Regions from separate parts of the Homo sapiens genome. Here region 2 is linked to region 1. The links come from fine-mapping of genetic effects on gene expression. Tissue or cell type: monocytes. Region 1 holds a variant in brackets; the other region holds the start of a gene. All regions are shown on one strand. Distances are from middle to middle.

What was found. PIP is the estimated chance that this variant, and not a neighbour inherited with it, causes the effect.
Region 2: ATP11A starts here. The variant in region 1 is fine-mapped to the expression of ATP11A in monocytes (TOPMed, PIP 0.92).

Annotation. Positions count from the first base shown.
Region 1 is chr13:112,885,281-112,891,123 of GRCh38, reverse strand. It overlaps ATP11A (ATPase phospholipid transporting 11A), which reads right to left. Exons shown (of 30, transcript NM_015205.3): 30 at 3,956-5,843. Among named protein-coding and RNA genes, the nearest start is that of MCF2L-AS1, 80 kb to the left of the region's middle. RefSeq lists cis regulatory regions at 1,939, 5,544 and enhancers at 1,867-2,011, 4,470-5,045, 5,472-5,616. The variant G/A (reference allele first, on the strand shown) is at 2,979.
Region 2 is chr13:112,686,462-112,692,304 of GRCh38, reverse strand. It overlaps ATP11A (ATPase phospholipid transporting 11A), which reads right to left and starts at 2,267. Exons shown (of 30, transcript NM_015205.3): 1 at 1,850-2,267. The coding sequence starts at 1,888. It overlaps LOC102725228 (a long non-coding RNA gene), which reads left to right and starts at 2,490. Exons shown (of 2, transcript NR_187633.1): 1 at 2,490-2,642; 2 at 3,436-5,536. RefSeq lists enhancers at 113-614, 2,913-3,430 and silencers at 1,475-1,714, 1,735-2,664.

The DNA of each region.
Region 1 (5,843 bases):
ATCTGCCCTTCTGTGTTGGACACGCCACAGGCAGACTTGGGCCTGGCGCCTCTGCAGTTCTGGGTGGCTGGAGGGAGCAGGGCAGGGCTACGCTGGCCTCCTCCAGCCCCCAAATCTGCACAAACCCTGCCTAGACAAGACAGCGGTACTGTCCCTCCCTCACCCCCTCCTCCAGAACGAAAGTGCCGAGGTCTTGGCTTCTCACTGCCCAGGTGCCGTCGGGCTCGGCCTCATGGGCTCCAGCTGTATGGGAAGGGCTTCCTGCCAGCCCTTGTCCCGAAACCTCTGACCAGGGTGGTCTGGCTGGCTACAACCAGGCACCCAGCACCTGGAATCCTCACTGGGAAGCTGAGCCGGGCAGGGGCCCTGAGTCTGTGTCCAGCCAGCCCCATGGTCACTGCGTCCTTCCTGCACCCCAGGCCCCATGCTGGACACAGGGCTCGGCCCAGAGCGAGGCAAAGTCTCTCACTTCTTGGAGCTTATGTCTCAGTAAAAATACATAAAATAGGTTAATGTACACAGACACAGCCTCAAATCGGGGTGAGATTCATGCTGTGAAGGCAAAGAACGCAGACCACGAGGGCAGGTGGGGTGGTGGCCTGCGCCGGGGCCCGCTGAGAAGCAGAGACAGACAGGACCCAGCCGTCCCACGAGGGCCCAGAAGCCGTCCACAGATCGGGAGGCAGATGAGGGTGTGTACGGAGACAGAGACAACAAATATAGCCACCTTTTGGGGAGAATTTTGCTGAAACAAGGAGGTGAGAAACAAGAGCTGAGCCGGGTTTCTGTTTGAGACTCTTCTGCTGCCCCGATGGCTTGGCCGGCAGAAAGACAGTGATGCCGCCACAGAGACGGTGAGAGGTCACCCGGCCGCCACAGCCCGCTCCTTCCCCCAGGGCGACGGTGAGGGGTCACCTGCCCGCCACGGCCTGCTCTTCTCTTTTAGAGTAACCACTGATGTCTTAAGAAGTCAGGAAGCCTTGTGAGATGAGTGAGATGCTGACTTTAGCCCCGTGTTGGTGCGTGCTGCCTCGGCTCATCCTCTGCGGGGCGGCTTGCCTGTTGCTGTGTGTCTGGCTCTGCCTTGCTCTGAGCAGGGTCCCCGGGTGGCTTCCTGGATGCCTTTGCGGGTTGGGGACGACCCGGACCCTCTCGGTCCATTGCAGTCACCCAGGTTGAGCCACTCAGAACCGATGGCAAGCGAGCTCCCCTGGTGTGTTCCAGGTTGTCATCCAAGGAGCAGCCATGGCCTCAAACACCCCTCCAACCCCACCCCACCGCCGCACAGGCCCGGATCCACCCCGCAGGCCGCGGCTGCTCCCAGGTGTGACTGCCCTGAAGCCGGATGAGGCATTTCCATGGCCCCCCAGAACGGAGTGTTGGGGGTTGAATTGTGTCTTCCAAAAAGAGATGTCGGAGTGCTAACTCCCAGTGCCTCAGAATGTGGCCTTGGTTGGAGATGGGGTCTTTACAGAGGCGACCGAGCTAAAAGGAGGTCAGTGGGGCGGGCCCTGACCCCAGCGCCGCATGGAGAGCGCCCAGAGGAGATGCAGGTGGAGGACAGGGTGGTGCTGCCACACCTGGGGAGACCCCGGGGTGTTGGTGCACAGACGAGCCTCCGCAGGGCGCTCACAGGAAGCACGCATGTCACCCACGCTTTTGAGATAGGCACATGGCTCTTCCTCTCCCAGCAAACAACTTTTAATTCCAACTTTTATTTCTTCTCCAGGCTCCATCCTCCTCCCTCTCTCTTGGCCCCAGGTGCTGCTGGAATGTCCCCTTTGCTGGGACACTGGAGGACACCTGAACAAACCAGCCTCCCTGTCAGAGCCTGGAGGCTGCCCCAAGCCAGCATCTGTGGCTCCACATGAGCTGAGAACCATTTTATGCCGGCCTCGCTCTCCCTCCAGCCCTTCTGGGCTTGGCTGGCCTTGCCCCGTCCCCTGAGCCCTCCCAGCAATCCTGTCCCAGGTGAGAGTATGAGGCTGGCATGGAACAGCCCTCAGTTGATGTGGGGGAGCAGCGGATGCCCTGGGCAGGCTGGTGGATGCCAGAACACCCTGAGGACACCTGAGGACACCCGGAGGACACCTGAGGATGCCCCGAGGACGCCCTGAGGACACCTCTCGAGACACCGGGAAGGGGCTCCTGTGGGTTCTGTCCCTGCGTCCCTCCCACACCTGGGCCCGTTCACTGGCAGGCCACACGCTATGCTGTTGTGGAAAGCAGTCGTCAGGACAGGCTGCACGAGGTGAGCGGGTTCACTGCGCGTGCAAAGGACCGGCAGCCTCCTCAGGACAGGGCCAGTCCTCGTCCACCTCAGGACCCGCCACTGAGCAAGTGCGCCACAGGCCACGTGGGCGGCTCTGGGAGCCCCAGCATCAGCGCGGGGCACGCAGCGCCACACGAGCCACGCCTTCCTCCATCCTCACCGCTGCAGGCACACAGACACTCCCATTCAGGTCCACAGGCGGCATCATCTGCTGTGGGGGCCTCGGGTGGCCTGTGTGGTTGATGATGTTTGCTAAACACCCACAGAGGCCCCCAGTGACCTAGCATCTGCAGTTAAGAAAAGATCTTTGGCACGGGACAGATGGGCCAGTGTGGAGGGCAAGCTTGCATCCCCCTCTGGCTTCCCCAGGAGGCCCTGATGGGCAGGGAGGGCCAGGCTTCCTCCTCCTTGGGCAGTGGGCAGGGTCACTGGGCATCTCGCTTTCAGGATTCATGTCTTCTGTCTGGAGAGCAGGGGGAGGTGAAGCGAGTTTGGGTCACTCATTAGGGCCAGGCCTTCCCACCCTAGTGCCGCCCCCTGGGACCAGCCTGCTCTGCCCCTCCCCTCTTCTCCCCATGACCCGCAAAATCACAGCATTATCTGTTTTCCTGCTACAAGAGGAAGAGACAGCTGTACGGAAGATGGCTTCAGGGTTACGAGCTGGAAAGGTAAAGGTAAGCCCACATGAAGATGCTGAGAATCCAGG[G/A]AACGAGAGGAAAGCATTTCGGAGAGAATCCAGGGCAGCTGTAGGTTCATTCACCCCACAGATGCCTTCGGAGCACTGCCTGTGAAAAGTACCCCCGACTTTGTGGCGTTCAGGAGCCAGAAAAAGTCCCATGTTTAGAATTCCAGCCTGCGAGCCAGGGGCCCTCTGTCCCCTCCCGGGGTGTTTCCCACGTGGCCCTGAGCTGAGACTCCATGGGAAGCAGGTGGCTGAGCAGGGAGAGGAGATGTAGCCAGGCGGGACTCAGGCACCAGCCACCAGGGATGCTCTAGGATCCACCCCAAGGCCCCTCTCCGGGTGCCCCAATGGAGCTGGGATCCCAGAAGTTGGGACCTGGTGGTGTTTTGAAGTTGGTGTTTCCAGACAAGACACAAAACTGCAGAGTATGACACGGCCGGGCTGGGTGGAACTCGAGAGAGGGTGAGGTCAGGGTTGGGACAAGGCCACGGCCTCCAAGGCCAGGGGGCATTCCGGGGGCTCCGTGGCAGCACCCAGAATTCTGCCAGGGCTGGGAGTGGCAGGGGGCAGGGAATGCCCTCTACTTCAGAGTGGGAAAGGCTGGGTTCAGCCAACAGAGCCCAGGAGGCTGAAGGGCCTGGAGGAGCCTGGGGTTTGGTCAAGAGGGAAAATTGGGATGGAAAGGGGGCACCTAGACCCCAAGCACGAGGTGGCAGGCAGGAGCTTGGCAGAGGTCAGGGAGGAGCTTGTGGTGGGGATGGACCAGAAGGTTGGGAAACCCAGTGGTGTTTCCGGTTCTGTGCAGGCACTGGCATCCAGGGCAGTCAGCACCAGGGCCCTGCACCTGGCACACCTGGTATCCCTGCAGGGGGTGGCAGCCGAGGGAACAGCCAGGGAGGGCCCACATCACCCACTGGGCTTGCCACCTCCATCCCGCACAGAAGCACGCTGCGAAGTGTTCTGACTGCACAGTTTCTCAGAGCAGAAAATGTACACACCACTTGTGTGAGTTTCTTTATAAAGAAACTGAAGCAGACTTTTATTCTTTATTGCAAGCAGATTCAGGTCTCCTGCTTAGATAATCTAGAGAAAAGTCCAATATAATATTATCCAGTCAGTTTATCTACAGAAATAAAAGTTAAAAACAGAAGCATACAAAATAAACTTTACTGAAATGTTAGATTGGTTTAATTAACAATTTAATTTTTCAAAGCTGATTAATGAATTATCAGTTAAATGTTACTGTGTGGAGACTGATTTATGTTAATGCACCTACTATGTTTAATAATTTAAAAATAAACTCCAGTATTTATGATGATGACAACTATGGATACCATTCATGTTAAATACATTTTTGAAGACCTTCTTTTATTACATTACATAATGAACAGACATTTTAAATGGTGACGCAGACATTATAATTTTAAGTCAGACACAATATATGCATATTAAAATTCTGTATACTTTGATAAAGTAAAAAATAAAGCTATATAAATTGATCTTTAGATTTTTCTGCAAAAGTAGAATCACACTTTCATGACACTTCTAACATATCCCATCAAGGCTGCTTATAGACACAACATCAGAAAGATTTTCATTCCAGTTCACCCACCTTTAGCTTAAAAAAAAAAAAGATTGCATTTGCCAACTGATATTTTTCCTGTTTTTAAAGTTACAAATGGGTAACTTCCTAAAGAAATGTAGGATGCAAGGACCTGCATATCAAGCTGTTAGACACTGAGTTGTCAAATAAATAATACTAACATTAAATAAGAGTGGTTGTATTATTCAGTACTAGTCAGTGCAAAACACATGAGCTGAGTGGTTTGAAGAACAAGGCTGGAGGTTTCCCGCGACAGCACCGGACCCCTGGCCAAGGCTCAACTCAGGGGAGTCCCCACAGCCTGTCTAAACATTTGTTTAAACGCTCAGCAAGCCGAGCGGATGGTCACCCTGTTGGAGACGCTGGCCGCATCTGGCCTCCTCCCTCGAGACGGTGTGGCCTGCTTGTTCGCCCTGTCTGCTCAGACACAGGCTGGGTTGACTGGGGCTTTAGGCGGCCGCGGCCCTTCCCAGCTGGCTCGTGGCGGAAGGCTGGCCGTGCTCCGACGCGTGCACGGATGAGGTGCGGCGTGGGTGTGGCCAGTCCTGCTGTGGCCGCCTGGTATAGGGCTGAGCCGAGGGGAGGTTTCAGCTTGCGAGGCTGGACCTCCCTAAAGGGGAAGGGCCTTGTCCAGGGCACCAAGCCTTGCTCACAGAGCAGCTGGTGTAAGTGAAGCTGCGACTTCACCCCCGGGGCCTGCTCTGCAAAGCCCAGACATTCTGCCAGGAGGGGGACTCTTCATCCCAGGGAGGCATGGGCTGGGGGCCAGGGAGCCCATCTTCCCATGCCCATCCAGAGGCCTCTCACAGGGGCCCCTCAGCAAGGAGGCAGGATGCAGTGCAGGACACCAGGACAGTGTGCACTTGTTTGTGGCACATGTGTGTATATGTGTGTGCATGTGTGTATTCACGCCTGCAGGAGCCTGCGCATGTGTTTGTGGTGCGTACATGTGCATGTGTACGTGTGGGAGCTCACGTGTGGGAGACGTGTGTTTACATGTCTGGGAGCTCGTTTGTGGTGTACACGTGTGTGCATGTGTGTAGGAGCCTGTGCGTGTTTGGGGTGTGTCCATGTGCATCTGTGTGTACGTGTGGGAGCTCACATGTGTACGATGTGTGCACGTGTGTTTACACGTCTGGGAACTCATTTGTGGTGTACACATGAATGTGCACGTGTGCAGGAGGCTGCACGTTTGTAGTGAATGTACGTGTGCGTGTGTGTGTGCATGTGTGCAGTAGAAGCTCATACGTCTCTCTGCTGTGCATACACGTGTGTGAGAGCAAGCC
Region 2 (5,843 bases), 200 kb after region 1:
ACGTGACCCTCCTTTTTAACACTGAGTGTTAGAAGGGAACGGAATGAACTGGGAACACCGCGGGCAAAGTGAGTGTTAGTCCCTTCCCTCTTCCATTTCGCTCGAAGGAAACAAAGCAGGAAAATAAGGTGTCTAGGGACCCACACTTCTGAGCGACACAACTGAGAACAGAAGCTTCCGCCCAATAAAGCATTTCTCTTACACTGCAGGTTACCTATAGTCACTGTGATTGGGTCTTCTATAACGTTACCACAGTGAAACACAGGTTTACCACTCACATTAGGATTTGAACTGGGGGCTCGAGCACCAGTGAGGGAGTAACACAAGGCTCCTGGAGCCAAGCCTTTCAAGATCTAGCATCGGAATCATCAGAATCACCAGGGGTGAGTTCTCTCCACTTAAGTAAGTCAGGCTGACCTTCCTAAGGCTTCCCCGAGATCAGGAAACGATGTAAGGTGCACTCAAGTCTCCTTGACTCTCCGAGGTTTTTGGTTAATAAATAAATCCGGGGGAAAGCATTGATCTGGCATCCCCCACTGAAAAGAAACCTATCTATCTTTGGCCAAGGTCTCCTATTTAAAGAAGGCTCATAAATATGAAAGGCTGCCTGAGGTAATTCCTATGCCGGGAAAGAACAAAGTTCCCATAATACTGCCCTCTCTAGTATCAAACCCGGTGCATGCGACTTCTCGAACCTGTGATTGACCAGTGACCGCCAGCCTCTATGGAACAATGAAGCCTCTTGTGCAAGACAGTGGCAGGAAACGCTGTGCTTGGGACAGTTTTCTTCCTCTCCTACACACACACACACACACACACACCCTTTTTTTTTTTTTTTTTTGATACAGAGTCTCGCTCTGTCACCCAGGTTGGAGTGCAGTGGCTCGATCTCGGCTCATTGCAACCACCGCCTCCCGGGTTCAAGCGATTCTCCTGCCTCAGCCTCCTGAGTAGCTGGGATCCCAGGCGCCTACCACCACGCCCGGCTAATTTTCGTATTTTTTAGCAGAGACGGGGTTTCACCATGTCGGTCCGGCTGGTCTCAAACTCCTGACCTCGTGATCCGCCCGCCTCGGCCTCCAAAAGTGCTGGGATTACAGGCGTGAGCCACCGCGCCCGGCCACACACCCCTTTTTACACCTAACGCCAGGGATTCCGGTTTCCCCTCCTCTGGTGTAAAACAAAATCAACTTTTCCCCTTCCGAGTCTTCCCTCCTGAGCTCTTCACTTGCTTATCACTGAAGGGGCAAATTCCAGAGGAACCCAAGAAGACCCCGGACTTCTGATCTAATTGGTTACTTTAAGGTAAAAAATAAAAAGATTCCAAACTCCGCTTCTGAATCCCCCAGGGGTGTTAAAGAACAAACACAATTGCTACCTTTTTCTGCAGAAGTGTAACGCTTCCTCCCAATCCCTTAATCTTACAGACACGGCTGCGCGGAAGCCGCATCTGAAGGTTCCTCCCCAGACCCGGGCCCCGGCGGGGTCGAAGTTGGCTCCCTCCGGGCGCCCGGTCCGCCGGGACAGCTCGAACCCCAGCCAGCCTCTCCGAGGGACCCCCAGGGCGCTGCGGGCGGGAAGGGGGCGCCAGGCGGCCGCGGCCAGGGAGCAGGTGGCCGCCCGGGGCTGGGGCCCCGCGCTGTGCCCACCTAGACCCCGTCGGAAGCCCCAGGGTGTCAACTCCGAGGCCCCTCCCCAGCATCCCGCTCGTCCCCGGGGGCGGTCCGAGTCCCAGACATCGGAGACCTCCCGGGACCCCGGGGCTGGACCGGCCACAGGGTCCGGGCTGCGGGGCCGGCCCGCGTCTGTCTGGTCCCCGGGTCCCCCAGCCCGCGCCGGGAGCACTCACGTATCTGTGCACGAGCGTCCGCACGAGGCTGCAGTCCATGGCTCCTCCGGCCGCTCCCGCTCCGCCGTTCAGCGCCCCCGCGCCCGGCTCGGCGCGCCCATGGGCTCCGGGGTACTAGTGCGGCCGCGCCCCCCGCTCCGGTCACGGCCTCGGCGCGCCGGGCGGTGCAGGGGGCGGCCGCGGCCCCTCCGCGCTCATGCCCGGCCCGGCCGGCGAATGCTGGGTCCGCGGCCCCGCGCGTCGGCAGCTGCTCCACTGGCGGCAAGGCTGCTGCTCGGGGCCGCGCGCGCGCGCTCTGGCGCCTTCTCTCTCCCCGTCGGTCCGCCCGCTCGGTTGGGCTCGGCTGGAGCACCCCGGCCGCGGCGGAGCCTGCGCTCTGCTCCTCCCGAGTCTCCTCCTCCCCTGCCCGCCGCCCTCTGGAGCCTCCGGGCCCCGCTGGCTCCTGCCCCTGCTCCGGGCGCGCACGTCACCGGCGCAAGTGAGCATGCGCCCCGCGGCCGCAGCCCCCGCCGGCCCCGCGCCCACACCCGCGCTCGCACCCGCGCGCCGGCCCTGCCCCCTCGCGCCTCCGCCCGGGCCCCAGACCCTGGGGGCAGAGGGCAGAGGGCAGAGGTCAGAGGCCGCGGGGAGGAACCCCCCTGTTGCTTCCGCCTCCCGGGGCGCAGGCGCTGGGCGCGGCGGGGAAGGGACTCGGCACTGGGGAAACCCGGAGTTTCAGCCAGGGTCCCAGGGCTTCCTTCCCGGGTTCCTGCCGGAAAACTTTTCTCCTCCGCCCGGAAGCCTCGATGGGGCAGTGAGATCGCGGGGCGAGGTGGGAGTGTGGGAGGGGGCCGCGGGCAGAGAGCGGGAGTCCGGCTGGGTGGGAGATCTCCTGAGCCGAAGCTGGGTCTCGCCCCAGCGTGGCGCCACCGACCCGCAGGCTTTTCCTGCTCTGCAGATGGAGAGACACAGGGACGCTCCTCAGGTGGCTGCCCTGGGCTGCCAGCCTGTCAGTGGGAGGGGAGGGTGCAGACAAGAGGCCCCTGTTTCCGAAACCCCTCTGTCCCCAAAGCTGCGACAGCAGAAGACACTTAGGCGGCCTGAGGGGTTGGTGAACCACAGAGGAGCTCAGCTTCGCCTGGTCTCCAGCTCCCGGTGGCGGTGGCGTGTCCTTAATGCTGCTGGCTTTGAACTGGACTGAGAACTATTTACCACACAAACACCACCATTTCAATCCCGGAGAATGCCTGTTTTCCCTAGGGTGACCTGGCCGGGGTAACAAACACTTGTTCTCTAATTCCACGGTCAGCCTTGACTTAATTGAGGTACTTGATTTCCAACTTCCTGTCTTGCTGCCACAGATAATCACTGATGAAACCAAACAGGCAACACCTTTTGGTGGCCTGTGGAGAGCGCTGCCCCGTCTGGGTCTTAGGAAGGCAATTGAATATGAATGTTCTCCCGAGTGCTTGTGGAAAAGAGATGGTGTTGGCCACTTTTTAGACGAAGAGAAATGAGTACTAGTGAACACTAATCATAGTGACTAAACAGTAAACGGCTCCCATTTGTTGTCGGCTAAAGCACTGATTCTTCATTTTCCATCCCAGCCTGTCCTGCTCTGGCCTGCCCTGTGCTCAGGAAGCTGGCGGTCCCCCTCAGTGGATCTTCACCCACAGGGACAACCTGCTGCAGACCGGGTAGGAGGGAGGCAGGGGCCTCTTCCCCTCTCCTTCCTGGCCTGGCCCCACACCCACCAGTGTTGGTTTCACTCTGTGGCTACGATTCTTCCTGGGTGCCCTTTCCATTGCACAACTCCTCTAGGCTCTACGAACAGAACTTCTCCCCGCCCCCAAGCCTCTTAGGGTGAGACATGTTGTCGGTCTGCCATTGTTGCTGGTCCCTAAATAGCAGCACCCTTTGAAGGATCCTTGAACCATGACCACACCGCAACAAAGAGTCCTTCATCAAACTCGCTTCCAAATCCCCTCCCAAGAACACCTTCAGTTTCCTGCAAGAACCCTGACTGCTGAAGCCGGATTTTGACTAAGCTTCTACCTTGTAAACCGTGACTGTGGGATTGGGGTCGAGGCGCAATCAGAGGTTGTATAAGGCACTAGATCAAGGCTGCCTGTCTGTCAGGAGTGTCTGCTTTATTCAGTAGTAAATGTGAATTGTTTTTCATTCTGTTGTGAATACTGTTGGTTGACAATGCAGCAGCCATGCCCTCTCTATCCTTGCTGGTTCAGGTATCCACTCTGTGTGGCTAAGGGTAAACTCTGTCTCTTGAGAAAATCTTGGTAACTCCATTTCTCTTTCCAACAATTGGCTTCAAACAAGCTCAAGTCAATGAGTCCCAACAGGAAGCCTGCTGGGGGTTGTCTGGCAAAGGTTTTCTCACTCCTACAGGAACATAAAGAGGAAATGCTCCTTTTTCCCTGGTGAATGTTGCATTCCCTGTCTGGATGCAATGCCTGGTGCTCCGCAGCCCTTTGCACTTATAAGAGAAGGTGGCCGGAAGAGCATCTTCACCCTGGGGTGGCCGCCTGGGAAGATGAGAAGAGCAGGAGTCCTTGGTGGCACAACCAGGCAATTCACCAAAATCCTGCTGCCCTCACCTGGAATTTCCTGCTATGAGAGACGTCTCCGTTTAAACCACATGAGCTGGATTTTCTGTTTCTAACACATGTCAGCATCTTCACGGTAAATCTAAGAAAAAAAAATCAGGGCTATTAAAAAACAAAGTCCAACTCACCCTGTGCTATGGTCTGAAGGTGTCCTCCCAAATTCACACGTGGAAACCTAATCCCAAATACCTGATACCTAATCCCAAATATTAAGAGGTGGGGGCCTTGGGAGGTGGTTAGGAATGGGATTAGTGCCCTTTAAAACTGAGGTTTTTGGGAGCCTGCTTGCCCTTTCTGCCATATGAAGATGCTTAGAAGAGGCCTTCTATGAAGCAGAGAACTTTTCTCAGATGCCAGATCTGCTGGGACCTTGATCTTGGATTTCTCAGCCTTCAGAACTGTGGGAAGCAAACTTCTGTGTGTATGAATAGCCATCTAAAGGATTTTGTTACAGCAGCCTGAGCAGACTAAGACACCCTGTGAGTCAGTTATTTTTGGCTGTGTCACGAGTGACCGCGAGTGCAGGAGCTGAAACGGCAGTGAGTGGGTTACCATTTCTCAGGACCCTGCGGAATTGGTGCGATGGTGCTTCTGCTCCACCTGTTGTTGGCTGGGATTGTCCTGCAGCTGCATTCTTCTGGGGGTCAGCTGGGGCTGGAAGCTTCCTGTGGTCTAGTCACACAGCTGGGGTCTCAGCTAGGGTGATAGAACACTGGGGGCAGGCCGGCCTTGCTGTCTCTCTCTGGCTTCTCATCATTCAGTGGTCTAGCCTGAGTTTTTTACATGGCAGCTCAGGAGGGTCAATGTGGACGCTATACAGCCTGTAAGGCCCGGGTTTGGAAGTCCAAGAATATGACTTCTACCATGTTCTACTGGTGAATATAAATTCCAAGGCCAGCCTAGATTCAAGGGATAAGAACGTAGATTTCACTCCTTGATGGGAGGATCCCATGTACAGACAGGGATCCTTATGAGGGATTATGAGAACTCCTAATCCTTATGAGGGATTATCATACAGAGAATTTATGGGGGATTATCTTTGGAAATAATCTACCATAGACTGAATAAATGATAATGTAATGTGTTGGTGCCCCTCCCAGTGCATTCAAAAGTGAAACGACTGCCAGAACTCCAGGGCCTGCAAGTTTCTTCCTTCACATCTAAGCAGAAGGAGAGACTTCACAGTGACGTGCCAGCTAAGTCACGTGCCCACTCCTGCCCAGTCTGTCACGCAAGTAGCAGAGTCCCTGAGATGATTGGCTTAGGCCCGAGGTCAGTGCACATCACCAAACTAGTAAGTGTCCAAGGGGAATGAAATTGTCTTCGCCTCAAATAACCAGGACCTACCCCTGACCCACTGCGAGCACAGCTGCTTCACAGTGCTGGAGGGA